2 separate regions of the Homo sapiens genome follow, and region 2 is linked to region 1. Evidence: fine-mapped expression QTL. Tissue or cell type: whole blood. Region 1 holds a variant in brackets; the other region holds the start of a gene. All regions are shown on one strand. Distances are between the middles of the regions.

Evidence for each region. PIP is the estimated chance that this variant, and not a neighbour inherited with it, causes the effect.
Region 2: it holds the start of MORN1, and the variant in region 1 is fine-mapped to the expression of MORN1 in whole blood (TOPMed, PIP above 0.99).

The regions. Positions count from the first base shown.
Region 1 is chr1:2,346,047-2,348,723 of GRCh38, reverse strand. The region is part of intron 10 of MORN1 (MORN repeat containing 1); the gene reads left to right. Among named protein-coding and RNA genes, the nearest start is that of MORN1, 44 kb to the left of the region's middle. The variant T/C (reference allele first, on the strand shown) is at 1,515.
Region 2 is chr1:2,390,427-2,393,103 of GRCh38, reverse strand. It overlaps MORN1 (MORN repeat containing 1), which reads left to right and starts at 1,550. Exons shown (of 14, transcript NM_024848.3): 1 at 1,550-1,646. The coding sequence starts at 1,571. RER1 (retention in endoplasmic reticulum sorting receptor 1) reads right to left here and starts at 1,263. Exons shown (of 7, transcript NM_007033.5): 1 at 1,146-1,263. RefSeq lists silencers at 978-1,277, 1,378-1,487, 1,618-1,687, 1,848-1,977 and enhancers at 519-1,391, 1,260-1,554.

The sequences.
Region 1 (2,677 bases):
TGCCCGCGCAGGTGTGCGTGTGCGTGCGTGTGTGTGCGTGCCTGCGCAGGTGTGCGTGTGCGTGCGTGTGTGCGTGCCTGCGCAGGTGCGTGTGTGCGTGCGTGCCTGCCTAGGTGCACGTATGTGCGCATGCGTGTGTGTGCACTCTCCGGCTCTGGCAGGGCCCGTGGGCAGCGGCTCCCCAGCAGGCAGGAGCGGACACAGTACCCAGGTGCGCGTCTGAAAAGAACCGGGGTTCCCTGGAGAAGCGGCGGATCCAGGCTGGGGCAGGATGGAGGCACTTCCCCCATGGAGGGCAGAGGGAGGAGGAGTCAGCTCCCCACGGAGACGCGCCACCAGCCTCACGGTGGACTCCACTGGTTCTGGGTCAGTGAAAATCCTGCCCCACCTGGCAGCGTGGGCTGAGCAGAGCCATCCATGAAAGGCATGAGCGTCGCATCCATGCCTCTCCTGCCAAAGATGCGTAACCCGGGTCTCTCTGTGATGAGACCTCAGACACGGCCACACGGGGGAACCTTCCCTGAAAGGCCTGGCCTGGAAGCTTCGAAGACGCCAGGACCATGGCAGTCAGGGAAAGGCCCGGGAATGTTCCAGACCGACGGAGACTGAAGACACAATGAGAGCTCGCTGCAATGTGTGGTCCCAGGCTGATCTCCTTCCTGCGAGGGACATCACTGGGCCACGGGGAAGCCCAGGCTGGGGTCTGACCCCGAGGCGTGCCCTGCCCCGGGACGGCTGTGCTGGGTTACGTGAGGCGAAAAACTTCCCGGTTTGTAAAATGCACTCGAGGATGTGGAGTGAGGAGCAAATTCAGCAGCGGACTTTCAGATGGCCCAGCGAAAACATTCTTTGTACTCTACCTGTGACTTTTCTGTAAATGTTTGATTAAACATTTACCCCAAAATGTAAAATACCTGTGCACCCGGCACGCAGGGTGGCAGGGGGGTGACGGGGGCAGCGGGGGCCGAGCAGGAGCCTCAAGGCTGCAGCAGCCGTGCAGTCCACCTCCCTGTCCCGCAGTCAGAACCTAACCCTGAGGCCACTGGGAGCATCGCACGGGCAGCCACGGTGGGGAGGACACCTGCGTGGCCCCGTCCCCCCTGCACCGAGACTATGGGGCCAGCAGCTGGCCTGGTGGTTCTAAGTCATCTGGGGCCTGTCCAGCAATGGCCTAGACCCCTGAGGTCATGGGGTGTGTGGGCCTGGGGGCGCCTCTGCAGATGCCAGGGTCTCAGCCACTCGGGATCCTCCTCCCTGGTGTCCCCTGGAGACAGCCTGTGCCTGACCAGTGCCCTCCATGGAGTGCCCCATACCCTGCTTCGGGATGGGTGATCGGGGGTAGGGGGCAGCCGCAGCCACACAGCACACACACGGGCCATCTGCCACCTGCAGCTGGGGATGGAGCCTTCGTGGCACATTAGATTCTTTCCTTTCTAGAGGCGCTTTGGCACTGGCACACAGTCGCAGCCTCTGAACAGACTCAGACTGGCCACCAGCTGCCCCAAGGGGACGTG[T/C]CCCCTGCCACTCTAAGTGGGAAACCACCTCCCCCAGCAAAGCTGTGTGGGGGCGGCATCCCAGGTCCTGGGGCCATGGGGCCAAGAGTGCAGCTGGGTAGGGTGCTTTGAGTTCCCCATCTCCCAAGAGCTCCCCATCTCCCAAGAAGTTCCCCATCTCCCAAGAGTCCCCATGTCCCAAGAAGCTCCCTATCTCCCAAGAAGGACCCAGGAGTCCCTCTCCTAGGAGGAAGGGAGCACCCACACCAGTCCAGCCCTGGCCAGCGGGACGGTGGCCTTCAGGGCTAGTGGGAGCTGGGCCGGGGGTGGGCAGGGAGAGCTGGGCCCCACCCAGACTAGGAGGACAGCTCCTGCTCCCCAGGGCAGACCCCAGCAGGGGTGACCGGCAGGAGCCTCGGTACTCGGACCGGCTGGGGGCTGGAACACCCTGAGGGGCTGAGGATGCACCCAAACACCCTTCTTAGGTCGAGATGGGGGAAGGAGAAGGGGGTGCTTTTTTGTCTTTTCCTTTAAAATTTATCTCAGGGTGGGCGCGGTGGCTCACGCCTGTAATCCCAGCACTTTGGGAGGTCAAGGCGGGTGGATCACCTGAGGTCAGGAAATCAAGACCAGCCTGGGCAACATGGCAAAACCCCATCCCTACTAAAAATACAAAAATTAGCCAGGTGTGGTGGCGGGCGCCTGTAATCCCAGCTACTCAGGAGGCTGAGGCAGAAGAATCGCTTGAACCAGGGAGTCGGAGGTTGCAGTGAGCCGAGAATGCGCCACGGCACTCCATCCTGGGCGACAGAGCGAGACTTTGTCTCAAAAAATAAAATATACATAAAAACAAAATAAAATGTATCTCGAGGCCAGGTGAGGTCCCTGTAATCCTCAAACTCCTGGGCTCAAGTGATCCTCCTGCCTCAGCCTCCCAGCACTTGGGAACCTTCCGGGGCCTTTCCCTGACTGCGGGCACCCTGGCGTCTGTGAAGCTTTCAGGCCAGGCCTTTCAGGGAAGGTTCCCTGGTGGCTTTGTCTGAGGAAGGTTCCCTGGTGGCTTTGTCTGAGGAAGGTTCCTGGTGGCTTTGTGTGAGGAAGGTTCCCTGGTGGCTTTGTCTGAGGAAGGTTCCTGGTGGCTTTGTCTGAGGAAGGTTCCCTGGTGGCTTTGTCTGAGGAAGGTT
Region 2 (2,677 bases), 44 kb before region 1:
TCACATTCATCCACATCTGTGGTCCATCACTCTGCACGTGGAAAGGATGAAGTCCTCTGCCTGGCGTCCGGGAGCATTGACAGTCTGGCTCCCACCTTTCTCTTCACGTCCCCATCCCCAATTCCTCCGGGACTAAGAAAGCCCCCGGCTGCCGTGCACCAAGCTTCACGCCTCTGGTGTTGTTCAGTCCTCTGAAATGCCCTCCCAGACCCCGTCTCTTCCTCCTTCCCAAGGCCACATTCCAGCCTGGGCTCCCCGCTCCTCTGGGCCTGACCATCTTATATCTCCACCTGGCTCTGACACACTGTTACCGCCGTCGCCGTCACCTCAGGCATACGGCAGAAGCCATGTGAGAGTCTGAATTACTGAGAACCCTTTATCCACTTACGGGGATAACTGCATCTTCCTGGGAAATGTCAACTCAACTAAAAATAAAGTGCTTCCAGGACTAGCGGCCAGTCTCTACTCTTCATAAAGGGAAAAGGGCAAAAGCCCACTGAAGGTACTTAGGCTGAAAGCAGCCCTCTGTGCTGTGAGACACCTGGCAGAGAAACGAACGATACCTTTATCAGTGGGGCCACAGACCAGTACTAAGTCAGCCTGGAGAATTTATGATTTTATTGCCTATTTAGAATACGATCAAAACCGATGTAACTAGTTTCCCTTCAGCCCGTCAGTAACGCCTTCACCCCAGAGCTTAACACTAAATCCTACAGATAAGCGCTGACCTGGACGCAGGATGGGGACAGGGCACATTACTCTGGAATACAGCCCAACTCGCAGCGCTGTGGGGGCCGCGACTGCCCGCTTCCCCCAGATGCCAAGCAGGGGATGCGGACGAGATGCGGCCCGGGTGGCTCGAGGGCTGCAGCCCCCGCCCGGCCCCTCTCCCGCTCCCCCGACCCTCGCAGGCCCCAGGGCTCCGCCGCACCCCCCAGCACCCCGTCCCGGGCCCGACCCCGAGGCGCGACCCGTACCCCTCAGGGCCGCGGGTCGGGAACACGGTCCCCGCGGCCACCCGGGCCCCGACGGCCCTCCCCGCCCGGCCCTCAGCGCGGCCCCGCCCGCCCGCGGCCTTGACAGCCCGGAAGAAGCGGAGGCGGCGCTGCCCGGCCGTTCCCGCGCCACGCAGCCCTTCCTGGCACCTCGCAGCTCCGCTACGGCCGAGCCGCGGTCTCCCTCACGGCCGCGGGAAGGAGGACGGCGGGGCACGGGCGGCCGCAGGCGCTGCGCTCCGGCTCCGGGAAGCTGCAGCGAGCACTTCCGCTCCGTCCTCCGCGGCGCCGCCTCCAGGGCCCCCAAGATGGCGCGAGGGCGGGGCCAAGGGCTCCAACCATTTCCGCTTCCGGCGCAGACGCGCAGGCCGTTGGCGGGCGGGCCTCCCGGCGGAAGAGACGACAGCGGCGGAAACGCGCACAGGCGCAGCTGCGTCCTCTGGCTCCGGGCCCGGCTAGCTTCGCTCCAGAGATTGCGCGGGCTCAGGGACTAGGCCCGTGGCCACACCCCCCCTTGCGACAAAGACCAATGGAAGCGGGCGTTGCTGGTCGCTAAGAGAACCCTCGGCGGCAAGATGGCAGCGGCGGGCGAGGGCACCCCGAGCTCCCGCGGGCCGCGTCGGGACCCGCCTAGGCGGCCGCCCCGGAACGGTAACGACTGCGGGCCACGGGACAGGTCGCTGGCTGCCCTGGGCTCCATTCAGGGTGCGATCGCTCTACGCCCTCGACCCCCAAATGCTCACCTCGGAAAGTAGAGGTCCAGGTGCCGCGGCGGAGCCAGGGCCGCCCCCGCGTCCCCCACTCCCACAGGACTCGCCGTGCGCCTCGGGCTCGGCTCGCACCCTTCCCCGAGCCCTCCTCCCGCAGCAGGCCAAGCCCTGCAGGGGGTCGCCCCCCGCGGGCTCCTAGCCGGGAAGACCGGGTTCCGGCCGCAGCCTCACAGCCAGCGGGACCTGGGGTTGCCATGGGGATCCCGAAGCCCAGGACTTGGGGCGAGGGCAGGCGCAGGAGCAGCACCAAGCCTCCTGACTTCCTGGCCGGTGCTGTCCAGAAACGCTAGGACGCGTTTCAAAAGCAGTTTTTGCCTGTACTTCCAGCACTTTGGGAGGCCGAGGCGGGTGGATCACCTGAGGTCAGGAGTTCGAGACCAGTGTGGCCAACATGGCGAAACCCGGTCTCTACTAAAAAATACAAAAATTGGCCCGGGGTGGTGCCTCCTGTAGTTCCAGCTACTCGGGAGGCTGAGGCAGGAGAATCGCTTGAACCCAGGAAGCGGAGGTTGCAGAGAGCCGAGATCGCGCCGCTGCACCCCAGCCTGGGCGACAGAGCAAGACTCAGTCTCAAAAAAAAAAAAAAGAGCAGGTTTTGATAGGAACTGTTTCTAGAATCAAATAAACGGGTCTGGAATGAACTCAGAGCTAACACTACTATCTTCAGGTAGAACCTGACCCTGATTTGGGACAGATACAGTAGCCTGTAGTAACCCCCTGCCCTCCTCCCCGACATTTTCCCATAAACCCTGCCCACAAAATGTGCCTGAGGAGCTGGTAGGGAGGGAGCCCTGCCCATTCCTGGAACTGCAGGAGTTGGCGGGTGGCACACCCAGCAACTAGGAGGAGATGAAGCCGGCCAGGCCATCCTTGGGTATGAGTGTGGATTTTCTCCCCAGCGATAGGAGGCCA